Regions from separate parts of the Homo sapiens genome. Here all the other regions are linked to region 3. The links come from fine-mapping of genetic effects on gene expression. A gene starts in region 3. Each other region holds a variant in brackets. All regions are shown on one strand. Distances are between the middles of the regions.

Region 1 (7,975 bases), 89 kb before region 3:
TCCAAACAGAATGTGCCCAGGCTTATAAAGCAATGAATAAATTTGGTGAAGCACTTAAGAAATGTCATGAGATTGAGAGAGTAAGTACCTTCTACATAAAAGTTTTCTTGTTTTATTCTGTCGATGGTTTTGGACAAATTTCATAGTTTTTTTCTCTTCTATTTCTTTATAATTCATAGTAGGTGCTTTTTAAAATCAGTATTCACTTTTTTCAGTTTTCATACTGGAAATATAGACTGCATTTTCAGCCAGGGTCTCTATTGTCTTGTGGTAAGAACTCTTTTTTAAAAAACTTTATGGAAAATTTGTATCTTGGCTATGTTTTTATTGATTTTTGAACCTTCCAAATTGCTGCTGCCGCTTTAGTAGTACATACACAGCTGATTAAAGTACTCCTAGGACCCTGTTCATTGTAGAATTTATTGATGATGCCATATACCCTTGGTAAGATATAAATGTTGGAAGACTTTTCACAATATTTCTTCTGTAGCTTATCTAATTTCATGCTGTTTGATAAAATTGTTTTCTTAATTCTCTTCACGTCTGACTCATTTCCATGACTAGTGGTTGGTTTTTCTTTTTTGTGTTTTACACAGATAAACATAGTTTATATAACTAATTTCACATTTGCAATATTGTCAAGTATAGAATACCAAAGCTTAGTTGAAATGCATCAAGTTCCTGATTGCTTGACTTACTTGCTAATTGATTTCTTTTCCACATACCAGCATCACATTGCATAGGATTCAGATTTGTATCCTCAAAAAAAAATTATCAAATACATCTTATAATCCTTTGCAAATGATTCTAAATATAAAAACTCAATGTTTAACATGTGAGTCTACTTGCACTACTATGTAAATAAATTATGTTTGATGTTGTCACAATAGCTTTAAGTATAATTAAGGAAGGGATAATGAATAAACATTTTTAAAGCTTCCTTTTTCAACAAATGATTCTGTGCCTGCAGTATGCCATATCCTGTGCTAGACAATGGCTAACTGTATTTGCTTATTTGAAATGCAAAATATTCCTGTTGAATAATTGTAATTGTTTTTTTAAAATTTTACTAGTTTTTTTCATGCCAAAGTAACAAGTATTCCAATGCTTTGATTTTATAGTTTTCTTAGCCATTGCTGTACTTCGGTATAATAATAAAAAGATAATTTTGTTAGCATTTTATAGAAATCACTGATGACCAGTTTGACTTTCATACATACTGTATGAGGAAGATTACCCTTAGATCATATGTGGACTTATTAAAACTAGAAGATGTACTTCGACAGCATCCATTTTACTTCAAGGCAGCAAGAATTGCTATAGAGATCTATTTGAAGCTTCATGACAACCCCCTTACAGATGAGAATAAAGAACACGAAGCTGATACAGGTATAATATTCAGAGTTCTTCTTGTGCTCTGATGTGTTTATGTGTATTTATGTGTATTATGTTTTTCATTTAATAGTATTGCTCCATGTCTTGAGCACCACGAGGAAAGATATTATACAAGGTTCTCTAAACAACAAAAGAAAAATGTTTACTTTTATGCTTCCAAAGTTAAACAAGAATTTAATTTGCAGTTATTCATTGGCATTTAAGAAGTTTGCATGTTATGAGTTTTACATTTAATATCTGGTTTACCCAAAATTATAAATTGCTAACTATTTTACAGGTACTAGATTGCTAATTGTATAATTAGTATTATAATTCTACATTAGTGTTGGCTATTAGTATTACTAGTTATTTTTTTGAGATGGAGTCTCGCTCTGTTTCCCATGCTGGAGTGCAGTGCATGATCTCGGATCACTGCAACCTCCCAGGTTCAAGCGATTCTCCTGCCGCAGCCTTCTGAGTAGCTGGGATTACAGGTGCCCACCACCACGCCTGGCTAATTTTGTGTTTTTAGTGGAGACGGGGTTTCACCATGTTGTCCAGGCTGGTCTCGAACCCCTGACCTCAAGTGATCTGCCCACCTCGGCCTCCCAGAGTGCTGGGATTGGCCTCCTAAAGTGCTGGGATTACAGGCATGAGCCACTATTCCCAGCCTATTCCTCTTTTTAATAGTAATTTATAATTAACCTACTAAAAATGAATATTGCTTGAACATTAAAAACCAGCTTGGGATAAAGCTAGGAAAATTGCACAGTGACTTATCATTTGACTCATTTTTAATGTACCGTTTTTATAGTAGGGTATCGGAATGACTAGGGAGAAGTCTTTCTTAGACAGTTATTTGGGACAGAACCTGAGAATGAGTGATCTCATACGTACAAAAATATGAATTTTGTGCCTTACTCATGGCAAAAATGTTGTAGGAATTGGGGCATAAAAAGTGTGTTTAATTTTTTTTTCTTTTAAGCCTATTTCTTTTTTGAGGATATGATTGGCTACTTTCTATATCCTTCTTCCTGCTAAACAGCTTTTGAATTATTTTGCTAATTTGTCGTTAAGTTTTACTTCCTGTTGCCTAAGGACAGTTTAGAAATTTCTAAGGTCACATACTGAAGCCTTTGTACAGATATCACTTGAATCTCTTTCTACCTGTTGGTGTTGCTTCAACTTAGAAGAAAACACCAGTAAGAAGAATCTGCTGGACAATTTACTGTTAAAGTTGAGAGCTATGACCCTCTGGCTTCTTTTGTTTTTCTTTCTATTCTTCTGCCTCCCTCCTTCTCTTCTTCAAATTATACAAATAATACACAATTAACTTTTCAAAGCTGAGACTATTAATACAGAAGTATACTTAGCAAATATGAAGATCCCCTTTCACTTTTCTCCCACCCATTCTTCATTCCAGCAATTATCCCTGTGAAAGGATCAATTCCCTTTATGCACAACTAGTTTCCAGAGTTCTATGTGTACATATACACATGCATTTCAGGATGGTTCTTTGCAGGGTTTCTTGTTTGATTTGTTTTTCTTTAGTCCATAATTGGGTTTATATCATACTCAGTGTTCTGCAACTTAGACTTTTTACCCCATTTAATAGTATTGCTCCATGTCTGCATATCATAATTATTATTTTCACTGTTAACATTTTAGTGACTGTAGGAATCTATGTGAATTTTTTCACCATTATAGTACTATAGTAAATGTCCTTGTACATAATTATGTGCATATTTATTTAGCATGGATTATTAGAAGTGGAAATCGGTGGGTTGAAGGATATGAGAATTTGGGATAAAAGGTTCATCAGTTTTTATTACCACCAACATGGGTATTGAGATTTTCTTTTATTTTACATTATTGCCAGCTCTGAAGGTTATTGTTCTTTTACATTTTTGTATGTTGGGCAAAATATCTAGTTTACAATTAATATATTTTATTTGTTTGTTTGTTTTGTTTTGTTTGAGACAGGATCTCATACTTTTGCCCAGTCTGGAGTCCACTAGTGCGATCATAGCTCACTGCAGCCTTGAGCTCCTGGGCTCAGGCAGTCCTCTCAACTCAGCCTCCTGAGTAGTTGGGACTACAGGTGCGTGCCACTGCACCCAGCTAATTTATTTTTGTAGAGACATGGTCTTGCCATGTTGCCCAGGCTTGTCTTGAGCCCCTTGGCTCAAGTGATTCTCCTGCCTTGGTCTCCCAAATTGTTGGGATTACAGGCATAAGCCACAATGTTTGACCAATTTCTAGATTTTTAATGGAGTGGATTATATGTTTTCTTTTTTTCACTTAGGTTTTATCCTTTAAGATGAGTATCTTTCATTATATACAAGTTTTAATTTTTAATATTTAGTCTTTTTTTGTGGCTTCTAGGTCTTGCTTAGAAAGGCTTTTTCTACTTAAAAATTTAAAATATATTTATGAATATCTTCTGTGTTTTTCTTCTAATACTTCTGCTTTGCA[A/AT]TTTTTTAGATTTGGCTCTTTAAACATTTGGAGTTAATTTTTATATACGTTGTAAGGTGGAGGGTGGCTTTCCACCTCCCTTCCTCCCCAAAATAGACTGCTATTTCCTCTGTAATATTTATTGAGTAGGTTTTTGTATTCCTCGCTGATTTCAAATGCTACCTTTATCATGATAAATTCTGAAAAAAATAATGTAGTAGGTCATAGGCATGGTTTCTTGGTCTAACATATATTAAAGATATGATTAAAACTACATGGTATTGACATCAGTACACAGATAGGTTTCTGTTGTTATGATCCATTTTTCTCAATCTAACACTGTGTCTTTAGAATTTTCGTGTTTTTACATGCAGATTTTTGCTTATGCATACACGGTAGAATTAGCTTGTCTTCCAGAAAGTTTCTGATACTAGGTTGAATCATTTTTCAGTTGATTTTTGAAAATTTTCTATGTAGGCCAGTATGTTAATCTGTAAATGGCAGTAGTTTTATTTCTTTCAATATTTATACCTTTCCCCCTTATGTCTTCTGGTATGGTTAGAGTTGCTGAAACAGTGGTGATTAGTAGGAACAAAAGTGTATTTGCTGCCTTTTTTTCTATAGAGGTAGTACTAATAATGCTTCATGATAAATTTTAATATTTATTTATTTATTTTTGAGATGGAGTTTCGCTCTTTTCACCCAGGCTGGTGTGCAATGGTACAATCTTGGCTCACCGCAACCTCTGCCTCCTGGTTTCAAGCAATTGTCCTGCCTCAGCCTCCCAAGTAGCTGGGATTACAGGCGCCTGCCACCACTTCTGGCTAATTTTTGTATTTTTAGTAGAGACGGGGTTTCTCCATGTTGGTCGGGCTGGTCTCGAACGCCTGACCTCAGGTGATCCACCCACCTTGGCCTCCCAAAGTGCTGGGATTACAGGTGTGAGCCACCACATGCGGCCTACATTTGTCTTTTTAATCATCTGGAGTTTAGTATAGCATAGAAGAAGCCTAGACTTTGGAGTCCAAGTGAAGTAGATTTACATCCTTGCTCTGCCTTTTACCATGACTCTGAGTTATTTTCCTCTGAAACCTCAGTTTTCTCGTATATAAAATAATATTATACTCTAATTCGTGAGGTTGTTGAGGACATCAAATGAAATACAATGTATGGGGTATGGGCTGGGTGCAGTGGCACACACCTGTAATCCCAGCACTTTTGGAGGCCAAGGCAGGTGGATCGTTTGAGTCCAGGAGTCCGAGACCAGCCTGGGCAACATGGTGAAACTGTCTCTACAAATACAAAAAAAACCCCAACCAACCAAACAAAATAGGCATGGTGGTGAGCACCTGTAGTTCTAGCTACTCAGGAGGCAGGAGTGGAAGGATCTTTTGAGCCCTGGAAGTCAGAGCTGCAGTGAACCATGTTTGCCACTACACTCCAGCCTGGACGACAGAGTGAGACCCTGTTTCAAAGAAAAAAAGAAAGAGAGAAAAAATATAAGGTATGCATTATATCTATCATGTAGCAAGGCTACAAGTGGTAGCATTTATGTTACCAGTTGTTAAAAAGGTCAGTGCTTATGTTGCCATCCATTTATAGTTTTGTGTTTCCAGAATGTAATTTTTTGGTCTCTATTAGAATTTTTTTTTTTTTTTGCGTTTTGTTTTTAGTATTAAGAGATTCTTCACTAGGAGAAAGATAAACAAATAATGCATTTGTTTTCATTGGCTTTATGTTATCTATTGCTGCATCATAAATTAATCCCTAAATTTAGCAGCTTAAAATAACCCTTTTTTTGGGTCAGGAATTCAGAAGTGTCTAAGTGACTCTGACTCAGGGTCTCTTAGGAAGTTGTAGTTGAGATTTTGGATGGGCATGCCATCATTGGAAGGCTTGGCTAGGACTGAAGGGATCCATTTCCTAGATGGCTTACTCAACCTGGCTGTTGGCATGAGACCTTAGTTCTTAGTCTCTCCATAGTTTCTAAAGTTTCTGAAGACATGGTAGCTAATGATGACAGAGAAAGGAAGAAGCTGCAACACCTTTTTAATGTTCTGTTCTCCTGACATCACACCATTACTTCCTTCACATTCTAATTGGTCAGAAAAGAGTCACCAAGCACAACCTATATTTGAGGGGAGGAGAATTGAAGAATTTGTAGACATAAGTTTAACTGCCGTGGTCTGCATTTTGGTTACAAATTATTTACATTATCATTTTTGGGTTTTTTTTTTTTTTTAAATTTTTGAGACAGGGTCTCACTCTGTCTTCCAGGCTGGAGTGCAGAGACTCAGTCATAGCTCATTGCAGCCTCAAACTCCTGGGCTCAGCCAGTCCCCCAACCTCAGCCTGCCACGTAGGTAGGACTACAGGCACATGCCACCATGCCCAACTAATTTAAAAATCCTTTGTAGAGGTGGGGTCTTGCTATGTTGCCCAGGCTGTTCTCAAAGTCCTGAGCTGAAGTGATCCTCTTGCCTTGGCCTCCCAAAGTGCTGGGATTACAGGCATGAGCCACCACGCCCAGCTTACATTATTCTTATATGCAAAATATAGTTAGCCATTTCAAGGCCTTCAGAAGTCTATCCCATTGTAACATTAGCTTAAAGTTCAGAATCTTGTCATGTAAATCAGGTACAGGTGCTGAAGCAGCTCCTTGAGTATAGTTTTTTATTTTTATTTTTAACCTTAAGTGTGACATTTCAATTATAGTTCTTTTAATATGAAATCCTGTTAACTAAAATTACAAGTTATTTATCAACTACACACCCAATATAAAATGAGACAGGCATAGGATGACCACTGTAGACATTATTAGGAGACACACAGGAGTTACCACGTCCATCCTCAAGTCCAGTGGGGCATGGCTTAATAGTTCTTTGATGAGGACCCAAGACTGGAATAATTTTCTGTGGCTCTTGGCCCTGCCCTCTGAGTTCCTGGTTCCACTTTCTGAATTACCCTTTTTTTCTTTTGGAAGTTAACAGTTGTTTGCAACTGAGTAGTTTTTCAGTATTCTGACCAGTAAAATATTGAGAGTCTAAAGACCTCTTTTCATTTTGTGCTGTCATTCTTTTCCTTCCAGATTTACTATTTCTGCCCATAGAATAAACATCATGAATCTTTTGTGAGTCTTATTGGAATCCACGTATACTTGAGCTTCTATGGAGGGGAGAACACCCTTAAGTTCTTAGAAGTTTTATTGTTTGAGAGAATCTGTGAGTCATACTCTTAAATTTTTTAGAGAGCCTTTCTTCAGACTAAATAGTGAGGCACCACCATATTCTGAGTAACAAAAGATTGTAATGCCAAGCCCCTTTGCCTTCCCTCTTGACATATTTTTTGATCTTTGCCCAGCAAGCCATTTCTGGAGAGACTGAGAGTTTTCAAAACCATCAAGCCCCTGTCTCTTTTCTTTAGTTTCTTTGTCCTCTTACATTTTTCCTGGGCACTTTGCCTGAAAATCCCTTCAGTTAGTTAGTTAGCTCACTGAGTCCATTTGACACATTTTATAACACTGTTGCTAAACTTTCTGCTACTCTGTGGCTATTACATATCCTTCACTTCATTTTAAGGGCTCATCTGCAGCCTCCTCAAAGTCTAGACTTCTATGAATAGTCCAAGGCTCTTCAAACTTCCACTAAAGCCCTACTCAAAGTCTGTCCACCTTTTGCAACTCCCTGGCTCCAAAGTTATTCCCACATTTTAGGTTTTTGTTACAGCAGTATCTCATGTCCAGGTACCAAAATCTATGTTGTTTATCTATTGCTGCAAAACAAATTACTCAAAAACATAGCAGCTTTAAATAGCAACCGTTTATTATCTGACTGTTACTATGTGTCAAGAATTCAGAAGTCACTTAGCTGTATGTTTCTGAAGACTCTGGGTCTCTCAGGCAGCTGAAGTCAAGATGTTGGCTGGGCACGGTGGTTCATGCCTGTAGTCCTAATGCTTTGGGAAGCTGAGGCGGGTGGTTGCTTGAGTCTAGGAGTTCGAGACCAGCCTCGTCAACATAGTGAGACCCTGTCTCTATTTATATTTTAAAATTTAAAAAGTTGCCAGCTGGAGCATCTGAAGGATCAGCTTGGCTTGGAGGATCTCCTTCCATGATGGCTTACTCTCATGGCCAGAGGCATCAGTTCTT
Region 2 (7,975 bases), 52 kb before region 3:
TGGGACTACAGGTACACGCCACCATGCCTGGCTAATTTTTTGCATTTTTTGTAGAGACAGGGTTTCACTCCAGGCTGGTCTCAAACTCCTGGCCTCAAGCGATCTGCCCACTTTAGCCTCCCAAAGTGCTGGGATTATAGGCTTGAGCCACCACACCTGGCCTAATTCTAGTTATCTTGCAATTTCTACCACATCTGCAGTTACTTCCTCCATTGAAGTCTTGAACCCTTAAAAGTCATCTCTGAGGACAGGAAACAACTTCTAAACTCCAGTAAATGATATTTTGCCCTCATCCCATGAATCATGAATGTTCTTATTGATATCTAGAATAGTGAATCCTTTCCAGAAAGTTTTCAATTTACTTTGCACAGATCCATCAGAGAAATCACTATTTATGGCAGCAATAGCCTTACAACATGTATTTCTTAAATCATAAGACTTGAAAGTTGAAATTGCTCCATGGTCTATGGGCTATAGAGTGGACATTGTGTTAGCAGGCTTGAAAACAGCATGAATCTCGTTGTCCATCTCCGTCTGAGCTCTTGGGATACGAGATGATTGTTAATGAGCAGCAATATTTTGAAAGGAATCTTTTTGTGCAGTAGATCTCAATGGTGGGCTTAAAATATTCAGTAAATCATGCTGTAAACAGATGTGCTGTCTTCCAGGCTTTGTCCCATTTATAGAGTACAGGCAGAGTAGATTTAGCATAATTGTTAAGGGCCCTAGGATTTTCAGAATGGCAAATGAGCATTGGCTTCAATATAAAGTCACCAGCAGCATTAGCTTTTAACAAGTCAGCCGGTTCTTGGAAGATTTGAAGCCAGGCACTGACTTCTCTGTAGCGGTGAAAGTCTAAGGTGGCTTCTTCCAATAAAAGGCTTGTTACATCTACATTGAAAATCTGTTACTGAGTATAGCCACCTTTAACAATGGTCTTAGCTGGATCTGGATAAACTCCTGCAGCTTCTACATCAGCACTTTCTGCTTCACCTTGCACTTTTATTTATGGAGATGACTTCTTTCTTTAAACCTCATAAACCAACCTCTACTAGCTTCAAACTTCTGTAGCTTCCTTACCTCTCAGTCTTCATAGAATTGAATTTAGAACCTTGCTCTGGATTAGGCTTTGGCCTAAGGGAATGTTGTGGCTGGTTTGATTTTCTATCCAGACCACTAAAACTTTTTCTCCGTATCAGCAATAAGGTTTTCTTAGGTGTTTACTGGAGTAACACTTCTAATTTCCTTCAAGAATTAATGGTTTGGCACAAGACCCTAGCTTTTTTAGCCTGTCTTGGCTTTTGACATGCCTCTTCATTAAGCTTAACCATTTCTAGCTTTTGATTTACAATGAGAGATGTACAAGTCTTCTTTTAACTTGAACACTGGGAGGCCATTGCAGGGTGATTAATTGGCCTGATTTCAGTATTGTGTCTCAGGGAATAAGGAGGTTTGAGGAGAGGGAGAAAGATAGGGGGATGGCCGGTTGGTAGAGCAGTCCGAACACACACACCATTTATTAAGTTCGCTGATGTTATATGGGCACAGTTTGTGGTGCCCACAAACGGTCAAAATAGTAACATCAAAGATCACTGACCACAGATCACTGTAACAGAAATAATAATAATACAAAGTTTGAAATATTGCAGGAATTACCAAAATGTGACACAGAGACACAAAATGAGCACATGACTTTGGGGTGGCATTAACAGACTTGTTTGTTGGAGGGTTGCCATAAACCTTTAATTTGTAAAAAATGCAGTATCTGCAAAGTACAGTAAAGCAAAATGCAATAAAATGAGGTATGCCTGTGTTTATACTTGCTAGTACTTTATACTATTTTACCTTTCCCACAGTCAAGAAAACCACCCATCTGCCACTGTTTTTACATTCATTGAAACCTTTAGTAGTGTTAACAAACTTGGCAAACTTCATAATGCCTCCATCCATCCAGTAGTTATTGAATGCCTGCTATCTCCAGGTGCTATACTTCACACTGGGGGTACATGACATTGTCCTTTCTCTCACATTTTTCACAAGCTCCTAAAGGAGACAGACAAGAAGTGAATGCAACAGCAATATCTAAACTCCTGGGAGTCAGCACTCATCTCTGTTTGGATAGGCTAGGAAGAGCTTCAGAGAATGTTGAATTTAGGTATGTGAAACAATAGTGTATTCAGGAGCTTTATGTAGCCTAGTATAAACAGAATCTGAGAAATGAGACTGGGGCTCAGATTAAAGAATTAGGTGATTTAGGGGCTGGGCACAGTGGCTCACGCCTGTAATCCCAGCACTTTGGGAGACCGAGGCGGGCCCATCACCTGTGGTCAGGAGTTCGAGACCAGCCTGACCAACATGGAGAAACCCCATCTCTACTAAAAATACAAAATTAGCCGGGCGTGGTGGTGCATGCCTGAAATCCCAGTCACTTGGGAGACTGAGGCAGAATTGCTTGAACCCAGGAGGCGGAGGTTGCAGTGAGCCAAGATCACACCATTGCACTCCAGCCTGGGCAACAAGAGCAAAACTCCATCTCAAAAAAACAAACGAAACCACACACACACAAATTAGCCGGGCATGGTGGCAGGCGCCTGTAATCCCATCTACTCGGGAGGCTGAAGCAGGAGAATTGCTTGAGCCCGGAAGGTGGAGGCTGGAGTGAGCCGAGATCGTGCCACTGCACTACAATGAGACTCCATCTCAAAAAAAAAAAAAAAAAGGAAAACACACCTTCACACCTTTTCTCAAAACTAGAAGGAAGGGAATCGTTATAAGTTTGTAGATGTGAAAGGAGAGATTTATATTAGATGTTCTCCAAATTTTTTGTGAAGTAGGAAGTGATAGGTGATATTACTTATGAAGTAGGAGGGTGCAAAAGGTTAGTTTAGAGGCTTGAAGAGAATAGAGATGGTTTGGAATAGAGCTGATGAAACACAAAAACAGTAATGAACAGGGTTAACCATGGAACTGAATTTGGAAATCATGAAAGTATGGTGATTTTGTGATTGTTTCTAGCATCTCATCTGAATGGCTTACAGGGCCAGGTAGATTATAGGACTGATCCAGAATTGTGATTTGGATAATGGATATAGGAGAAAGATAAGGATAGAAGAGAATTGAGAGCATTTGTGCCAGGCAGGATATAGAAATGTGAGTTGGAAGAGATAACCCAGGGATGGAAAAATATGGAGGGTAATTGAAAGCACTGACGAGGCCAGCCTTGGTGGCTTATGCCTGTAATCCCAACACTTTGGAAGGCTGAGGCAAGAGGATTGCTTGAGCTCAAGAGTTTGAGACCAGCCTGGACAACACTCCATCTCTACAAAAAACACAAAAATTTGCCAAGTGTGGTGGTGAGCTCCTGTAGTCCCAGCTACTCAGGAGGCTGAGATGGGAGGATGGCTTGAACCCCGGAAGTGAAGGTTGCAGTGAGCCAAGATCGGGCCACTGCACTCCAGCTTGGACGACAGAGCAAGACCTTGTCTCAAAAAAAAAGAAAAAAAAGAAAAAGAAAAGCACTAGAGCAGGTCATATGACCAATTTAAGAGATTGAGGCCAGATACAGAAGGAAGCGGGATCAAGAATAAACTGGAAGAAGAGGTGGCATTATAGGAATGGAGGTCTCAATGAGGTTAATGATCAGGTGCACTGTGGGTAATATGAATGGAAGCATAAGGGTATGAAAATCACCAGAACCGCTCCATAACAAAGTGGGGAGTGTGACCAAGGGAATGAGGTTGAACTGGCGTTGGAACTGTGATGGTTGGATGTTCAACCGACATTCCACATGAATGTTGAAATCTCCTAGGAAATGATTAAATGAATTTGGGGTTTAAAGGAATAACATGATGTAGGTATTAGGGACAAAGCAAGGTGAAGGGTGACAAAATTGAATGGAATGAACTTCAAAGGAATTAAAGGTTTTATAAGCGCTGAGTGTATAGGTGGATTTATTTATAGTGGAATAGGTTGCCAAAGCCCATACTTGAAAGGTTGGAGGGAGGGCATTGTGTGTTGACAGG[A/ATGC]TGCTATCCAGTACACAGTTTGGAGACAAGAATTGAGAGGAAGCTGATGGATGAGAGGGAGCTGCCTTCTGAGCAGTGACCAAGCATAATTGGAATGAAAAGTTTAGATGGTACTAAAGTTTCTCAGCTTTTGGCCAAGTTATTTTGAGCAAAACTTACAAGGTGAAGGTCGCAGGCCGTGTTTGGCCTATCTTTGTGAGGGTGTCTTAGATCCATGGTGTAGTGGTAACTGCTGGATCCTTCCAAGAGCTGCTGTGCAAAATGGTAACTAGTTGCATTTTGCTTAGTCTGTATGAACTTCCTTATGGTTTAGGACATGCAGCCATTTACTTGCTATACTTTCTGGCATACATGGCATGTAACCCCAGGAGACAGAACCCAAGGATTTTCTCTACAGGACTTCACTGTGTTTAGCATAAGAATCAGTATCTGTGCCTTATATAAGATGCAATTCCTTTTTTCCTCTTTTGTTAAAGATAGATTTCATTCACCAGTCTGTTGTAGACAGTATGATACAGTAGAAAAAAAAGCATGGACTCATACAGAGCCAGGTCTGAATCCTGGAAGCTTCTTGGACAAGTCATTTAAATTTTCTGAGTCTTAATATATCCCAAGTATAACAGACCTTGTATATAAAGTGCCTAGAACACAGAAAGTACTCAATGAATTTTTTCTATCATTAGTTATTAAATAAAAGTCGTAAGAAAAACTATCTGCCAAGCACTGTTGTTAAGTCCTGGGAATCCAAATATGAATATGACATGATCCTTGCCCTAAGATCCTTATAATTTAGTAGAAGGAGAGAGAAAGATAAGTATATTCAATGACATAACAGATGCCTTGGTAGATGCATAGATGGAAAACAGTGGGAGCCCAAGGGGGTAACAGTAAGTTCTGCTTGCCGGCCTGAGGTGGAGTGAGAAGGTAGGGAGCCTCCTTAACTATTCCTTCTCAATTTTCTCTACTCTTCTTCCTTCCACTCTATGTGCATATCTATTTTAAGTCTAGGCACATTTCCTGAAATAGACTCAGCGTGCCTTATGTCTACCCCAGTGTGTCAGCGATAATGTATGTGCTGAAGCGTCCAGATCTCTATAGTGAGCATCACACCATATATTCAGTTGTCAAATAGATGTTTGTTCTTAGATACACCGTGAGTGCCTCCAGCTCAATAGGAGTAAAAATGAATTTTATTATCTCAAAACCTGCTCCTCCACTTTTTGGACACCACCATGCACTCAGTTGTGAAGTCAGAAACATGGAAGTCATCTTTGGTGTTTCCATCTTCCTAATTCTCCACAGTTGGCTTTCAGCAAGTCATATTTATTATATCTGCAGAACATCTTTCAAACCCTCCAACTTCTCTCCATTTCCATGTTTATAATCCTAGCTTAGTACCATCATCTCTTGCTTAAATTACTCTTGCTTAAATTAACAAGCTCTCCCTGCCTCTAATCTTACCTCCTTTTAATCCATTCTGTATACTAAAACCAGAATATTATTTCTGACATACAAATCTAATTACTTCCTTTCCTTGCTTAAGGTCTTTCAAAAAGTTCAAAGCTTTCCACTGCTTCTAGAATAAAATAGCTTACAGGACACTGCAGAATCTCATCTCCTCTTATCCACTGCTTTCATTTTAGATAAACTTCCCACTAATTTTCCCTAAACCTTTAACTCCTGCTGGTGCTTGTTGGAGCTTACATATTTTCTGTACTTCTGCTCTCGTAGCACCCACTACACTGTATTCGAATGCTTAGTTGTATGTTTCCCTGACTAGACTAATCTCTATAGGGCAGGGATCAAGCAGATTGTTTTATTTTTGTTTTGCTTTTGAGTATGAGTGTGTGTGTTTGTGTAATATGGAAGAGCCTTGAGCATGAGGTAGTCACAGGATACATAATCACCTGCTTGGGTTGAGGCATATAATTACCAGGGGCAGCATGGGCTGCACTATGGCAGTCACATTCACACTCCTAGGAAGGAGATGTAATTGGTTAGGGGCTTCTGTGTGTTCCTTGTAAGTCTACAAAAGAGAAATAGAACATTGTCAAGAATGTTTCAACAGTATACTCAGTATTCAACAACTAGATGGCAGTGTCGTCTCTACAGTTTATATCTAAATGAACAAGTTGATTAGGTTTACTCTCAGTGAGTTGCCTGTTTTTACATTTTGCATGACGTAGTGTATTAATCCATTCTCACACTGCTATAAAGAAATATCTGACACTGGGTAATGTATAAGAAAAGAGGTTTAATTGGCTTACGGTTCTGCAGGCTGTACAGAAAGCATGGCAGCATCTGCTTCTGGGGAGGCCTCAGAGAACTCTGAATCATGGCGGAAGGCAAAGGGGGACCAAGGCATCTCACATGGTAGGAGCAGGAGCAAGAGAGAAGGGGGAGGTGCCACACACTTTTAAACCAACCAGATCTCGTGAGAATTCATCATCACGGCGACAGCACCAGGGGACGATGGTGTTAAACCATGAGAAACCACCACCATGATCCAATCATCTCCCACCAGGCCCCACCTCCAGCATTGGGGATTACATTTCAACATAAGATTTGGGTAGGGATGGAGATCCAAACCATATCAGGTAACAGGACTGTTTATTCCATTTTTTACTTATAATCTGAATTTAAATGTTCCCTAATTATAAAAACTGAATTAATTATTTTAGAGATAGGATCTCACTTTGTCACATAGGTTGAAGTGCAGCGTTGTGCAGTTTGAACTCCAGGCCTCAGCTTCCTCAGCAGCTAGTACTACAGGTGAGTGAGTGCCACTATGCTTGGATAAACATTTTATTTTAAATTTTTTTGTAGAGATGTGGTCTTGCTATGTTGCCCAAGCTGATCTTCAACTCCTGGCCTCAAGGGATCCTCCCGCTTCAGCCTCCCAAAGCATTGGGCTTACAGGTATGAGCCAACATGCCCTCTAATCTATTATTCTCTAATAAAAAGTTGGGCAATTTCAATCTATAGGAATAAAATAATCATTTTACCTTATGCAGGGTATTTAGTCATTTAACTATGATAGTTTATAGGTAATCATATAAGCACTTTTGGCTTAATCACTATGATTATATGTCCTGGAAATTAAGACACATACACACTCTGATTTTATTAAACTTTACACTGAACTTTTAGATTCAACATTAGATGGTTTAAAAGACAAAGGTGATGTCTCTCAAAGAGAAGTTTTTTTTTTTAAAAAAAACAGCTTTATAGGGGTAGAATTTACATAAAATAAGCCGTTCATATTAAAATATACCACTGACACGCACAGAGTTGCGACCTCATCCTTACAATCAAAGTAGTAAACATATCTATCACCCCAAAAAGTTTCCTCATGCCTCTCTGTAACGCCCCCCTCCTACCCTTCTCAGTACCTGCCCTCAGTTTTCTGTATGTGTAGATTAGTTTGCATTTCCTAGAGTCTTATATAAATGAGATCATATAGAATTTATCTTTTTCTGGGTCTGGTTTCTTTCAGCACAATTACTTTGAGATTCATCTGTGTTGTTGCATGTATCAATGGTTAATTCCTTTTTATTTTTGAGTAGTATTCCTCTAGTGTTGTAGAAAAACTAATTCTGAGCTTCCTCCTGCTAGTGGAAGAAATTACTACAATTTGGGACTTCTGTCTCTTAAACATTTAAATGAGCCTTTCTGACCAAAATAGGCTGATATTAATCTATATTAATATTGTGCCTGTGTGTGCTTTCATTGTTGCTAATGAAAATTTCAGCGTTAACTCTACAAATTGTGTGGTCAAAAGGATCACACAGAGGCTGTTTGTTAAAAATACATTCTTTGAAAGACAAAAGAAAGGGCTACTTTCATTGTTGTACAGTATCTTTCCCAAGTGGAACATCGGCGTTATCATAAAGACTGGAAATCGGCTTTCCATCCACCTGTAAACAAACAAGAACTGGGTTATTCCTAATCCT
Region 3 (7,975 bases):
GCTTTGAAACTCGACTGCCTTCCTTTCTCCTCAGCTTGCATATGGCCTATTCTGGGACCTTGTGATCATGTGAGTTAATACTACTTAATAAACTCCATATATATATATATATATATCTCCTATTAGTTCTATTCCTCTAGAGAACCTGGACTAATAAAGAGAACGAGATAAAAGAGGAAACAACAGAGGCCATGATTGCACTTTTTACATATATCAAATATTGGCAAGTCTGCCATCCTAGCTTCCCATCTGCCTACAAGTGGGCAGAGCCATTTTTAACCTTTCTTACTGTGAACATACTTCAATTCACTTAGAATTCTTGAAGTCCAGGCCAAGCACCTCTAGGGTAAAATTTAGCATTCTGTTTTATCCAGGTGTTCACTAACGGTTCCATATTAATTTGCTTCTGCAGATAAAGTATAAATTCCTCATGGGCTAAAATCACACCTTATTTTGTATCTTCCCCTTGCACCAACCACTAGCATAGTACTGAGTACATAGTTCAAATGCCATTAACTCCACAGTGATCCTACCTATGAAGATATGACTTGAAGAATTCTGAAACTCATTAAGCTAACCTATACAAGGATACTAATTTACTATTTATATACTGAAATTAAAGCCCTAGTATGATGTCTGGGGTTACCAAACACAGTGATATAGTAATTTGGTGGAGGCCAGCAAGGCCAATGCCATACTTCTCAGGGTAACTGGAATTGTGTCTTCAAAGGAGAAGTAATTCCCACTATCAACTGGGAGGTACAGGGTATCAAACTTGTGAGAAGAGCCCTTCTGTAGGCTCAAGGAGTGCCAGTGGCATTCAAGGAGGAGGGAGGGAGAGGATTTTTGTCCCCAAGGGGCATCTAGCAACATTTTGAGACAGTTTTGGTTGGTGGTGGGGTGCTACTGGGATTTACTGGGTAGAAGCCAGGGATGCTGATAAAATAAACATCCTACAATGCACAGGATAACCTTCCACAACAAAGAATTATCTGACTTAAAATGTCAATAGTGCCAAGGTTGAGAATCCTTTCTTTCATAGGCAATCAAGGGAATTCTTTGTCCTCTGTGCTCAGACCTGAACTTAAAGAGTAAAATTATCTAAGAGCTGTTTCTGAGTAAGACAAGTTACGAAATGGGCACTGTCATCAGGAGGTGGCATATCTAGTTAAAAAAAAAATTCAGAAATTGAGTAGTCTTATTTTGTATATAAGATTATCCTTATGCTATTCTGTTTTCTACTTTTTTTTTTTTTTTTGAGACACAGTCTTGTTCTTGTCCCCGAGGCTGAAGTGCAATGGCATGATCTTGGCTCACTGCAACCTCTGTCTCCCAGGTTCAAGCGATTCTCCTGTCTCAGCCTCCTGAATAGCTGGGATTAAAGGCACCTGGCACCACGACTGGCTAATTTTTGTATTTTTAGTACAGATGGGGTTTCGCCACGTTGGCCAGGCTGGTCTCAACTCTTGACCTCATGATCCACCCTCCTCGGCCTCCCAAAGTGCTGGGATTACAGGTGTAAGCCACTGCACCCAGCCTGTTTACTTTTATGTTTTAGAGATGGGGGTCTCGCTGTGCTACCCAGGCTGGAGTGCAGCAGTGCAACTATAGCTCACTGCAGACTTGAACTCCTGGGCTCAAGAGATCCTCCAGCCTCAGCCTCCTGAGTAGCAGGAAGTAGAGGTGTACACAACCACACCCACTTTTTTTTTTTTTTTTTTTTTTTTTTGGAGACAGGAGGTCTCACTCTGTTGCCCAGGTTGGAGTGCAGTTTTGCGATTTCAGCTCACTGCAACCTCCACCTCCCTGGTTCAAGCGATTCTCCCACCTCAGCCTCCCGAGTATCCGGGATTACAGGCATGTGCCACCACACCTGGCTGATTTTTGTATTTTTTGGTAGAGACGAGGTTTCACCATGTTGGCCAGGCTGGTCTCAAATTCCTGGCCTCCAGCAGTGCTCCTGTCTTGGCCTCCCAAAGCGTTGGGATTATAGGCATGAGCCACCACACCCAGGTACTACTGTGTGATTTTAATATCCAATGTTTTTTCTTCTATTACAAAAGTATCTTTACATACTTATCTTACCCTAAGCCATTGAAATTGTTCCATTTTAAGTTGTACTGACAAAGGATCCAAATTTACAGTTTCTGCTCAGCTGTGTAGCAAAGTATTAAGGAAAGGGTTACATGTTCACACTTTGAGGCCAAGTGGTAGTGACTCCAAGGACAAAATGAACAGTCAAAAAACAGGGCTGTATAATCCATCCATTCTTTCCAACAGTAGAATTTCCTCCAATTATCAATTCTGGAGATTCTGGGGTTATTCAATTAAGAAGAGTAGCACATACTTCAGTCACATGAGGACACTCTCAAAATACAAGTTGAAAATACAAAACTCCTCATAACAATGTCAAGTGCCAACAATGATTTTTAAAATTTAAGTAGGGCTGAACTGTGTGTAACTGGTGAAATGTTCAAGTTAACAATCCTTACACACGAAATCTCTCACTTCACTGACTTAATTCATTATTTGCTGAATAAACAATAAACTTCCAGTCAGTAGTCAAGAGTTGGCAATCTAGCTGGTAGGACATAACATATAATCATGAAACAGCAAAAACAGTATTCAAAGATTAAATTAGCAATACCCCAAAATGTGTGTTAGAGTTAGCATAAAGAATTTCTGATGTAGTTTACCAAGAGCTAAACTAAAAAGTCCAGAATACAAAAAACAGGGATGCAATGATGTTAGTTTTTTTCACCATCCTTGAAATTCTCCCATTAACCACAGCTCTGAGTTTTCAACTGCTCTTTGTCCTTAAATCTTCAGATTCCCTCCTTTGAATGGGATAGGTAGAGCAGATTAGAAGAAATATATTCCGAGGCTCTCTAATAGTTTCTGGATGATTAACCTTCATGAAAATAACCTCACAGATAAGTAATTAGGATTTTTCAGCCCATTTCTATAAACTAAGTAAACTTTTTTTCTAGTGAACATAACTTGATATATTAGTGACTGTAGAAAGTCTTTCTACAGCAACAGGAATTATATCAAGGCTTTTGCAAATTCCTGGCAACTCCGGGCATGTTTAAGTTCTACTACTCATCTGTTCTGACTATATTTTCATCTGATGGAATAAGCAGTTCATCTCCTTTCCTAGAACTTTTAGTGCTCTACTGTCCCCCTCACTTTAGTTAAGGTCTGCCATGTCCTCCTCTCCGACAGTCCTTGACTTTCCCAATGGCATATTCATCTGCTCAAACAGATGTCACTGCAAAACAAAACAAACTTTTAACAAAAAGCAATGTTTGCATATTTGGGGCCTTTTGTATGACAATATTGCACGTTTCCTCAGAAAAATTCACGGAGATTCTTTAAGGTTGGGGGTTTAATCTATTGATATTTTCCTTAGGTAGACAAAGACAACCTCTAAGTGCGCTCAGTTAATCTTTAACCGCTACATCATCGTCACCCAGGCACTAAGACATAACTAGGGCATAATGAGTTTTATTTCCACCAGGGGCGCCTAGTAACTACCAGGTTCAACGCTCCCAGGTGGCCGACATGTGATGTGCTCTACTGTTTGGGCTGGGGATATTAGCTCAACAAACTCTGGCCACAAGGATCACGCGGATATTCTTGGGGATGCCTAGCGAAATGCGCTGTACCTAGGCCTCGAACTCTCGCCTGCTCTCCGGTGGGCGGTCTCGAACTCCAGCCTGCTCTCCGGCAGCCCACAGCAATGCGCCTGCCAAGACCTTAGGCTGCAAAACTCGCCACGGCCCAGAGCTCGCCTCCAAGTGCGCCCCGCACAGGGCAAGCTTTCGGCGAGGACTCGCGTCCCACCCATCTAGCCCTGGCCGCTGTCCCAACTCCCGCAGTTCACAGAGGCGGCGGCGGTGAGCGCAGCCGATGCCACATCCTCAGCGGCAAGCTGAAGAAACCTGTCTCCTCTCTGGGGCGACCAAACGATACGTCGATGCCGGAACCGACCCGACGCCGGAGCCGTCGGCTCCGTCCTTACCGTTGCTCTCCAGGTACACGCCCCCGTCAAAGGCGGCTCTGCGGCCCTCTCGCGAGAGAGTGCCCGTGGTACCTCCTTCCTCTCAGTTGTCTGTCTCTCCCCGCCCCCGGAGTGATTGCGCGGCTTCCTCCAGAGGGCGGGAACCTTGGACGTGGCGGGGCTGGGTCAGTCAGGGCGCTGGGCCCAGCCTCTCTGCAGGCTGGCCTTCCGCGCTGCCGTGAAGCCCCCGACAGGTCCCACGCCTGCCTAGGTAGACCGGCGCCAGCCCGAGTGACGCCTGGCGTGTGGCCGCGGGCAGGCGGCTCCGTGCGGCGGGGCGGGCGGGTGCCACACCTGTGCGGGCAAGGGCGGGGCGGGAAGGTGCGCAGGCGCGCTCGGGGCTGGTGGGCGGTGGCTCCTGGGAAGTTGCGCAGCCGAACTGGCCGGCTGGGCGCGCGCTCTTGCGGTGGCGTAATCTCTCAGCCTTTCTGTGTCTCCTTTCCTCCGCCTCAGTTTGGGGCGGGTCGGGGGAATGGCTGAGGAGATGGAGTCGTCGCTCGAGGCAAGCTTTTCGTCCAGCGGGGCAGTGTCAGGGGCCTCAGGGTTTTTGCCTCCTGCCCGCTCCCGCATCTTCAAGATAATCGTGATCGGCGACTCCAATGTGGGCAAGACATGCCTGACCTACCGCTTCTGCGCTGGCCGCTTCCCCGACCGCACCGAGGCCACGATAGGGGTGGATTTCCGAGAACGAGCGGTGGAGATTGATGGGGAGCGCATCAAGGTGAGCGGATGGGGAACTGTTGGGGAGGACAGGGTGACAGGTGTCCCAACCCCACCGTGGGCTGGTCGCTGGCCGTGTGCACGGTGTGTGTGCGCTCCATTTTTTTCTCACGCTGATGAGATTGGAGTTGGGGATTGGAAGGATTGCAATACTGCAAACTTCTAAGGCAGCGTTTCTCAGACTTCATTGTGCATGCGATTTACCTGGGGATCTTGTTTTTGAAAATGCAGGCTATGATTTAATAATCTCGCTGATGATGCAGGTGCAGCTAGTCCGTGGACCACACTTTGAGTTCAGGAGTGTAGGGCTTATCTACCGACCCATTTACTGTGTGTGTCGTGTGCTGGGAGTCAGTCAAATATGAACGGAGGAAAAACAGTGAAATTGCGCGAGAATGGAAAATTCATTTAATCAGTAATAGTTATTAAACATTCATTCGAGCAGTGCCTTAGATGTTGTGGAAGTAAAGCCTATTGCCTTTGAGGAAGTACTTAGGTATTCTCTTGCATACAGTTTTGCTGTAGTAGTTTCTTTATGATACTGATTTTAGAAAAATCTATTTTCCTGCAGAAACATTCTATATGTGATAGTTCCTACTCAGGTTGCCAAAAGCATTTCTCATGATGCCACCTCAGACACACGCCCAATTCTTTATTCCCTTTAAGTCGTTATTTTTGGTCCCTGGGACTGGGGACACTGAGTGACAGTAATAGTGGAGAAGGTAGTATAGGCCCCAGGGCAGGTTTGAAGTTCTGAGGGGTTGGAATCTAACAGTGGAATGAGGATCAATGACAAGGCTTAGGCCTCTTGATGGTATAAACCTTAGACACACCTTCATAGCAAGCCACCACTAAATGCCACCTGTTGATGCCACTCCTTAAAACATAGGTGGAACCACCTTGCCTTATACTACTGCTTTAAATCAGCGATCGTCTTTATCTCAGTCTCTTGGTGGGGATGGGGAGTGGTGGGAGAACAGGCTTGCTTTAGACGTTCCTACCCTCGTATCTTAGAGGCAAGAACAATTTATTTTTCAGTTCCCTAATCATCGCCCCCCACCCCAACGGGTTATACTGCTAATGATGGTAGAGGTGAAGTAAGCTGGGTTAAAAGAAATTAACCTTTCTTTGGTGCTTCTGTCTTTTAATTTTTCACATTAGTATTTCATGTCCCATATGAGCTCTCAGTGGTGGTTTTGGAGTTGCTTTGTATTAGGGAATTTAGAAAGATTTGTATACTTGCAGAAGAAAAGATAGAATAAAAGGCTAAACATTTTTCACCAGAATTAGGTTTGGCCCAGAAGCCTTTGGGGTGAAAAATAATGGAGCTTCTGAAGTTCCAAGGGAGTTAAGATTGGGAGAAGCAGGAATCTGGGAAGTACGTGGGCTTTGGAGCCCAACTAACCTGGATTCATATCTGAACCTACGAAAGGGTAGGGATGGGCTGCGTGTCCTTACTAGGGTGACCAACTTTGCCCAAGACTGTCCAGGTTTTAAAACTGGGTCTCACATCCCGGGGACCCCCTGTATTGGGCACACCAAAATAGTTGGTCACCCTGGACCTTAGGCAGATTCTTTAACCTCTCAGAGTCTGTATTTTTCTTCCGAAAAACTGGGATCATGATACCTTATCAGGCTGCTGTGAGGATCAGATGAGGACATATATGAAGCACCTGGTTCATAGTTGGTGCCTTTAAAAAGATTCTTTGTCTTTCCTGGTGGCTTAACATTATTTTTCCTGTTTGCCACCATTAGTTCTGCAGTTGTACACCCAAAGTTGAAAGCAGAGATAGTGGAGGGCATAGGTAGACAGCTAAGGGGAGAGAAATTTAAAAAACAAAACAAAAACAAAAACGGAAGTAGGAAATTCTTTCAAAAGTGGAGAGAATGAGGGTGGGGGAGGAGTTGGGATTTGAGGGCCCTTTATCTGTTCCTGGGTTGCCATTTATACTTAAAGATAACAGATGAATCAGGTGCAAATTTAAGAGATAATAGTATTGAAAAAATATAAAGCATGTGCAGTGTATAAAGTCAATTACCTAACTACTGAGGTGAGTGCTGGCAGTGATAAATAAGACAGAACCACAGGTATGACGAATCTGGGAGCACAGAGTTGATAATTCTGGTTGGGAAGAGCAAGGAGATGATATTTTTTGGGGAGATTATTTCTACTGAACTTTAGCCTAACTTGTTACATTGATATGGACTTGAATACTGAGATCATTTTTCTTCTAAGGCCCTAGCCGTTGATTTGTGCCACCAATGGTGAGACTTGAGAGAGATTTTTATTGTGGTTGAAATGACTACAGACATGTTCTGAGGTTTCTATAGTAGGAAAAGATATAGCTATGTTGGGCATTTTTTAAAACCACAGAGCTTAATTTTTTTTAGTGCCCTTTTTTTCGAAAACTGAAAAGTGATATAAAGAGCTTTATTCTATGTGCTGCTTCTGCTGCTTTTTGGTTAACCTGTAATACATCTTGAGTGCTGCTGAAATGTTCATATTACGTCTTTGGAAAATTGTAGCCTGATCTAAAATGACATTTTTCCTAATTTTTCATCTCAAAGCTGGAAAGCTCTATTACTTTACTAGTAAAATGCCATTCTAGACATTATTTCTTTGATAAAAATGAGATATTGCGTTAAATGTTTTGATAATCATGGACTAGAAAATTTTCAGAAAGCATGACTTAACAACAGTGCCCTTTCAGAATCCGTTAAAATGTTTTATGAAATTTAAGAAAGCCTATATCTGCTAATCCATTCCTAAGCAGTATGTGCAGGTAGTTGAAAGAGGAAAATCTTGTTTGCAAAATTTTGGAAGTCGAATAAAATTATAAAATTAAATTCCTTAAATACAAATACATTCGGCTTTTAAATTGAGACTCCTAACTCTAATCCTTATGCTCCTTCCTCGTGTGTATATCCCCTTCATGACTAATTGTATTCCTTTAGCACAATCATTTTCCAGTGGCAGACACACCAACCCATTAAAGCCTGGTGTTGTATTTAATCCGGCCTCCCATTAGAGGTCAGCAGGTCCTACTTGAACATTTTAGTAGCTTACTTTTTTGTAGCGGTAGAAATGAAATGTTCCCATGTTAAGTGCAAAATGTTAATATTAACTAAAGGAAAATAATCAGGACCTCTCCCCACACTGGTAAAACAAATATTTAATGAGTAATTGCTGGA
Region 4 (7,975 bases), 26 kb after region 3:
CAACCCATTGGACAATTATTTTCTTGTATACATTTGAGGTCAAAGAACACTTCAGGAAAAAAACTCAACAAAGTATTAAAATTAGCTGATAACACAGCTTTTGTATTTGTGTGTTTTAGTAATCCAGCTTGTTTTAGAATAGTTCAGTGCAAAAAGCAAATGGTGCAAGAGGAGTTGATGTGTATTTAGACGTAAAAGCATTTAACAGAATGAATAACTATAGAAAGTATGAGAAAAGAGAACGAACTACGTCTCAGGTATAAGATTGCAGTTACTGATTTAGACACCATAGGATTAGGGATGTGGGGGCCTCTGATGTTGATTCTGCTTCCCCTGGTCAGTTTATTTTACGTATAAGTTACCCTTGTGTTCAAACACAAAATTGACATTATTCATGAAGGACTGCTTTCTTAATCAGATATTAAGAAGTTCGTCATGTATTTTGGGAGCACGTTTGCTACAGCCTGTGTGGCAAGGGCGAATGCACTTGGTTTGTTGGAATAACCTGATTTATCAAACATTTATCAAGTATGGGTCATGTGTTCTCTATTTGTGTTAGTGGAGCTACATAGACACTGTCCTTGAAGAACTTACAAAATAGTATATGAACAAATAGGAATTCTACAATATACTGTGATCAGTGTAATCAAAGAAGCATATACAAAGGACAATGAGCACAGAATATGGAGTGGTCTTTTGACTTGGATATGGGAGCAGTAGATAATCAAAAAGCTTCACAATGAGTGGAAGCATTTATGCAGCATCTCAGGGTAAATGTGAGGCATTCTCCATGTAAAGGAGAGGGAAGAAAGTCATCCCAGGTGAATGCACTGCAGGGCTCAAGAGTGGAGTTGAATTTGGGGGGAATGACTGCTAGGTCAGTGTGAGTATGTGATAGAATGGAGATGTGGTCAGAACACGGAAATGAAGCTAGCAAGGTAGATTTTGGTTAAACTGCCAAGTTGCCATAAGCAGTGGGATTAGGACTGGCTTGGGTGCAGTATCTGAAACTCAGTCTGAACCAGCCTATAAGGGGGATTTTAATGTAAGGAGTCTGACTTGTCTCACTGGACTTGAAGACAAGGATGTGACTGGACTAAAAGAAGAGCTGGGATTGAGCACACAGTTTCCTAACTCTGGGTCCAGCTTCTCTGCACATCTGCATTTTCTCTTTCTTTTATAACTAGATTTTTCCATTTTTTAAGTTTAATTAGCAGAAAACATGGCCACTGAGTACTTCTGAACTTTTGGATGCTGCAGTCATTCAAAGAGAAATGAACTCTCAGTCTCAAGTTGAAATTTCCAGCATAGACTGTTAATTGGCCTGGCAAGATCCAGGTGTCCACCCAAGACCAATGGCCAAAAAAGATAAAATAAGCAATTTCCACATTTAGGGGAGAAGGTATTTTGGGGGAAGGGGAGCAAAAAAAGAAGATAGCCACACAAAAACATTTGAACTTTACTATTTAGGCAATGGGTAACTAATGAAAGCATTTTGCAAGGTAGTGAGACCGTTAGATTTATGCCATAAATTCCAGCGGCAATGGGAAGGGTGAGGGGATGAAGTCATGGTCAGTCAGCTTACTGAAATAGCCTAGAAGAAACAGCTTTAACTGGAGCACTGGCAGAAAAATACAGATTTGAGATATTTCAGAACTAAAACCCCCAGGAGTTAGAGACCAAGGTCAGGAATTTCATTGCATGAACTAGTCAGTATTCTTTTCTAGAGCTGCTAGTTGCACTCATGTATGTGGCCAAATGTTTTTTTAAAATATCAGGCTTTGGTTTTATTTTTTAGATTATTACATTGCTTTAATTTGCCTTTATCAAAAGTTTGATTCTTGTGATTTATTTACATATATGTTTTTCAGAGTGTTTTGAGTCAGATGAAACTTGTCATTTAAAATTTTTAAGTTGTATATCCTAATGCTTTTTGGTATTTTTCTTGTTCTGAGTAGTTTAATTATAGAAGATTCTGTATATTTTTGAGTCCCAGAACATTCTTTAAATTACAAAAACAATTCAACTTTTGTTTTGGTTATTCATTCCATAAACTTAACAGAGTATATGGAGCCATTTTATTACTTCTCAGCTCCTCATTATTAATCTTTTCTTGCTGCAAATGGAGAGTTCCATGTTTCAATAAAATGTGATCAGTAATGGGACTTCTTTTTTTAAGTTAAATTTTTGTATAGGAAATACATTCACATGGTTCAATACTTGAACCATTCACAAAAGAGTAAATGGTGAATTCTCCTTCCCACTCTTTCTCCCAGCTCCTCAGTTCTTATCACAAGGAACCAGTACCATGA[A/T]TTTTTTTTGTTTCTGTTTTTGTTTTGAGACAGGGTCTCAATCTGCAACCTAGGCTGGAGTGCAGTGGTGTGATCTCAGCTCACTGCAACCTCCACCTCCTGTGCTAAAGCAATCTTCCTACCTCAGCCTACCAAGTAGCTGGGACTACAGGTGCACGCCACAACACCCAGCTAATTTTTTGTACTTTTTGTAGAGCCACGGTTTTGCCATCTTACCCAGGCTGTTCTGGAACTCCTGGGCTCAAGTGATCCATTCACCTTGGCCTCCCACCCCAGTTCCCACGCTGGGATTACAGGTGCGAGCCACCACACCTGGCCCCTGAATTTGCTGTTTCTTCACATAACAGTATACCCTGGAGATGAATTCATGTTAAAATATGTAAGCTTCATCATTCTCTTTTAGGTCTCATGGAATTCCTTTAGTTGGCCATTATTTAGATAGCCCTCTACTGATGAACATTTAGGTTGTTTCCAGTCTTGCTATTACAAGCATTACCAAAATGGATATCATTTTACATAAGTAATTTCTCAAATGTGTGAGTATATACAAAGGGAAAATTCCTAGAAGTGACATTGCTAGATGAAAGGTATCTGTGTTTGCAATTTGGGTTTCTAATCGCCCTCCTCAGAGGTTGCACTAGTAATAAAAAGCATGCCTGATTCCTCACACACTCACAACACAGTCTATTATCAAAGGTTTTGACATTTGGAAGGAACATTAATAGGTGAAAAATGATATCTCACTGTGGTTTTAACTGGCATTTATCTTATGAGTAGGGTTGAGCATCTTTTTATATTTAATGTTTACATTTTGTTTTCTGTTGAATTGTCTGTTCACATTCTGTCAGGTTTTGTTTTTTTGCCTTTTGTAGGGATACTGAATATTTTGGGTAAGTTAGTGATGTTTTATTTTTTTTTCCTAGTTTGTTTTTTGCCAAATGGCATTGCTTCTAATGGTTTTTGGCATGAAAATAATTTTAATGTAGTGAAACTTAGCAGTCTTTTCCATGACTCTCATTTTGTGTCATAATTAGAAAGACTAACCTTGCCTGAGATAAGAATTCTCGGCCAGATGCAGTGGCTCACGCCTGTAATACCAGCACTTTGGGAGGCCCAGGCGGGCAGATCACTTGAGGTTGGGAGTTTGAGACCAGCCTGGCCAACATGGTGAAACCCCGTCTCTGCTAAAAATGCAAAAATTAGCCGGGCATGGTGGCAGGCGCCTGTAATCCCAGCTACTTGGGTGGCTGAGGCAGCAAAATCACTTGAACCCGGGAGGCAGAGGTTGCAGTGAGCTGACATTGTTCCACTGCACTCCAGCCTGTGGGACATAGTGAGACCCTGTCAATCTCTCTCTCTCTCTCTTTCTCTCTCTCTCTCACACACACACACACACAAGTGAATGTTAGCTATGTACTGGATAATTATGATGTCTCAATGTAGGTTTATCAAATGTAATAAATGTACATAGTGAGGGAGGCCGTGTGTATGTGTGGATGGGCAGGGGCTCTGTGGGAACTTGATGGTTTCTGTTCCATTTTTCTGTGACCCTAAATCTGCTCTAAATATAAACATTATTTTTTTATTATACTTTAAGTTCTAGGGTACACGTGCACAATGTGCAGGTTTGTTACATATGTATACATGTGCCATGTTGGTGGGCTGCACCCATTAACTCGTCATTTACATTAGGTATATCTCCTAATGCTATCCCTCCCCCCTCTCCCCACCCCATGACAGGCCCCGGTGTGTGGTGTTCCCCACCCTGTGTCCAAGTGTTCTCACTGTTCAATTCCCACCTATGAGTGAGAACATGCAGTGTTCTGTCCTTGCGATAGTTTGCTCAGAATGATTATAAACCCTATTTTTTTAAATAGATGTGTCAGAGACTGCAGGTTGCCTACCCAATTTTTGTCTTCCCTCTTGTATTAATTTCCTAGGCTGCAGGAAAAAAGTACCATAAATTGGGTGGCATAAAAAACAGGAATGTATTGTCTCACAGTTCTGGAGGCTGGTAGTATCAGTAGTGTTGATTTCTTGTGAGGCCTGTGAGAGAGAATATGTTCCATTTCTCTCCTGGCTCACTGCAGCCTCGACCTCCTGGGCTCAAGCAATCCGCCAAGCTCTGCCCCCTGAGTAGCTGGGAACACAGGTGCATGTCACCATGCCCAGCTAATTTTTAATTTTTTTTTTTTTTTGAGATGGAGTCTCACTCTGTTGCCCAGGCTGGAGTGCAGTGGCGCCATCTCAGCTCACTGCAAGCTCCGCCTCCCAGGTTCACGCCATTCTCCTGCCTCAGCCTCCCGAGTAGCTGGGACTACAGGTGCCTGCCACCATGCCCGGCTAATTTTTTTGTATTTTTTTAGTAGAGACGGGGTTTCACCGTGTTAGCCAGGATGGTCTCGATCTCCTGAACTTGTGATCTGCCCGCCTTGGCCTCCCAAAGTGCTGGGGTTACAGGCGTGAGCCACTGCGCCTGGCCAATTTTTAAATTTTTTTTGGTAGAGATGAGGTCTCCCTAGGTTGCACAGGCTCATCCCAAACTCCTGGGCTCAAGTGATCCTCCAGCCTCGGCCTCCCAAAGTGCTGTGATTACAGGTGTGAGCCACCATGCCTGGCCAGATTTTTTCCTCTTTTTTGTGTGTGTGTGATGGAGTCTCGCTCTGTTGCCCAGGCTGCAGTGCAGTGGCATGATCTCGGCTCACTTCAACCTCTGCCTCCCGGGTTCAAGTAATTCTCCTGCTTCAGCCTCCTGAGTAGCTGGGAATAAAGGTGTGCACCACCACGCCTGGCTAATTTTTGTATTTTTAGTAGACACAGGTTTTCACCATGTTGGCCATGCTGTTCTCAAACTCCTGACCTCAGGTGATCCACCGGCCTCAGCCTCCCAAGGTGCTGGGATTATAGACATGAACCACACCACCCAGCCCAGATTTCCTCTTCTCATAGGGATGCCAGTCATACTGGATTAGGGCCCATCCTGATGACCTCACTTTAACTTGATTACCTCTGTTAAGGGCCCTGTCGCCAAACAAAGTCACATTCTGAGGTACCAGGGATTAGAACTCCAATATCTTTTTTCGGGGGGCAGGGGCACAATTCAGCTCGTAACACATCTCCCTCTTTTCTTACTAACAGAACCCTGGTTTCTTTTGCTGGCCACATAGCCCACTAGATAATCAGTTCCCAGCCTCCTTTGTAGCTAGGTATGGCCACATATCACAGTTCTGGCCAAAGAGATATGAGCAGGTGCTTGCCAGGGATTTCCAGGGAAACTTTGCTTTCCTGTAAAGAGGCCTGCCCTTTCCTCTGGTTGCTTCCTCCTCCTCTGTCCATGGCTGGCACGTGGGAGGGAGGCTATAGCACTGGCATGGATGCCTTGGCATTACAAAATGCTCTGGAGAACAGTGTCCTGCAGCTACCACACCAGCTCAGGCTACTTACCTCATGATTTTGCTGAGAAAAACAATCCCCACTGTTCAGGGGATTTGAGTACCTGTAGATGAATGCAATTCTAACTGGAAGAACACTTGAGGTGAAATGTGGAAGAGACTTGGGGACATTGGGACTAAAACTTTTGGATGACGATTGCACTATCCCTGTTTAGGGACTGCCCGTGTGGTCAGGGAGCAATTTGGGGCCCACTCACTGCCCTAGCGCATCAGTCCTTCAAGGAGAGGAACTTGCTGGGAGAACCTGAGTTAGTGCCTTTCTACCAGCCTTTAAACCTGCGCCAGGGGAAAACACCGTTTTAGGGACTTAGTGAACAATGGGTGCGCCATGCAGATGTCATTCCTAGGCAACACCCTAGGAGTGGCAGAGCAACCAAAGAGAAGGAACCGGGGTCCCAGATGCTGTGCTGCTACCATCACAGCCCCAGACAGTTATGCTTGGACCAGTAAGTGAGAGTCAAGTAGAAGACTTACATCTTGTTCGAGCCAATGTTATTTGGGCTTAACTAATACCTCATCTAAGTTATCCTAGAAAAGTACATCTAGCTTTAAATTGTTAAAATTTGTCAGTCTGTGATAAAATTGATGGTACACAATTTTACTACTGTATGAAAATATATGTGTAAAGTCTATTATGGAACTGGTATACGTTAGGGATCTCACCTAGCTCATTTAAGAAGAAAGGGACTGGCAGGGCGCGGTGGCTCACGCCTGTAATCCCAGCACTTTGGGAGGCTGAGGCAGGCAGATCACGAGGTCAGGAGTTCGAAACCAGCCTGGCCAATATGGTGAAACTCCATCTCTACTAAAAATACAAAAATTAGCTGGGCTAATTAGTGGTGGTGCATGCCTGTAGTCCTAGCTACTCAGGAGGCTGAGGCAGAAGAATCACTTGAACCTGGGAGGTGGAGGTTGCAGTGAGCCGAGACCCCACCACTGTACTCCAGCCTGGGTGACAGAGCGAGACTCTGTCTCAAAAAAAAAAAAAAGAAGAAGAAGAAAGGAACTTAGAGAATTTGGGGTAGCTTATGTTATCTTTAGGAGGACCTGGGACCAAAATTTGGATGCTACAAAGACAGGGACAATAGTAGCCAAGATAAATGCCCAGATGTTGTAGACAGTTGACTGTCACCACTATCTCTCCTCAGCACCTATGACACTCAGGACTGGCCACAAAATGTCCCCAAAGCTGTCCCAGAAGTACTGAAATCTTCAACATCACACTGGAAAGAAAGGCCATTCTCCCTGTGACCCTGTCTCTACCCACTTCCTAGAACTGAAGCTGCAAATATATCTTGGGAATCACAGGTTTTATCATCCCAGGCTCTGCAGCAGGAAAGCACACTAGAAGAGGATGGGGAGGCGTCGAGTAAGCCAGTCAGCATCTGCTGCAGAAAGTGATACTACGCCTCTGAAGCTCTTCACTGGGAAACACAGCATACTGCTATTTTCATGCATTTCTGAAGTACTTCTAAAGTGTGAACTAAAAAATCCTTGCTAATTTGGTGATTTGTTATATTTTCATAAACTCCTTATGCAAATGTAAGATTAGTAAATGTTGCCTACTTCTGAGAGTGTATTCTTCCATTGTACATCCAAAGGTGCTATGGAGCATACATTTTTTAATTCTGAAAACATTGGGAACTTAATCACGTAGGATAAGGTGTATGACCAGCTAGACAGGGAGGCACTCCCTGAGCCTTTTTCTTCCATCCTCTTCTGGCTGAACACCCTTTCCTTTACGATCTCACCTTCAGAGTTACTTGATTCCTGAACCCATGTTTAGAGCCTCACCTTTACCTCTGAAATCCTGAATTGGCTGCTGCATGTGGGCCATCTTTCTTTTGCAGTATCTGTGGACCACTCAAACATGTAATTTAAAATGTATAAACAGTGGGGCATGGTGGCTCACACCTGTAATCCCAGCACTTTGGGAGGCTGAGGTGGGAGGATCACTTGAGCGCAGGAGTTTGAGACCAGCCCAGGCAATAAAGAGAGACACCATCTCTACAAAAAATTTAAAAATTAGCTGACTGTGGTGGTCTGTACCTGTGGTCCCAGCTACTCAGGAGGCTGAGGTGGGAGGATCGCTTGAGCCCAGGAGATTGAGTCTTCAGTGAGCCGTGATCATACCACTGTACTCCAGCCTGGGCAACAGTGAGACTCAGTCTCAAAAAATAAAAATAAAAAATAAAATAAAATGTATAAACT

What was found.
Region 1: its variant is fine-mapped to the expression of RAB33B-AS1 in whole blood (TOPMed, PIP above 0.99).
Region 2: its variant is fine-mapped to the expression of RAB33B-AS1 in whole blood (TOPMed, PIP above 0.99).
Region 4: its variant is fine-mapped to the expression of RAB33B-AS1 in whole blood (TOPMed, PIP above 0.99).

Annotation. Positions count from the first base shown.
Region 1 is chr4:139,360,549-139,368,523 of GRCh38, forward strand. It overlaps NAA15 (N-alpha-acetyltransferase 15, NatA auxiliary subunit), which reads left to right. Exons shown (of 20, transcript NM_057175.5): 13 at 1-80; 14 at 1,176-1,389. Among named protein-coding and RNA genes, the nearest start is that of NDUFC1, 62 kb to the left of the region's middle. The variant A/AT (reference allele first, on the strand shown) is at 3,850.
Region 2 is chr4:139,397,550-139,405,524 of GRCh38, forward strand. No RefSeq gene overlaps it. Among named protein-coding and RNA genes, the nearest start is that of RAB33B-AS1, 53 kb to the right of the region's middle. The variant A/ATGC (reference allele first, on the strand shown) is at 4,023.
Region 3 is chr4:139,449,661-139,457,635 of GRCh38, forward strand. RAB33B-AS1 (RAB33B antisense RNA 1) reads right to left here and starts at 4,381. Exons shown (of 1, transcript NR_159964.1): 1 at 2,015-4,381. RAB33B (RAB33B, member RAS oncogene family) reads left to right here and starts at 4,461. Exons shown (of 2, transcript NM_031296.3): 1 at 4,461-4,784. The coding sequence starts at 4,536. RefSeq lists enhancers at 3,749-4,088, 4,709-4,758 and a silencer at 4,159-4,488.
Region 4 is chr4:139,476,039-139,484,013 of GRCh38, forward strand. It overlaps RAB33B (RAB33B, member RAS oncogene family), which reads left to right. Exons shown (of 2, transcript NM_031296.3): 2 at 1-571. Among named protein-coding and RNA genes, the nearest start is that of RAB33B, 26 kb to the left of the region's middle. The variant A/T (reference allele first, on the strand shown) is at 2,313.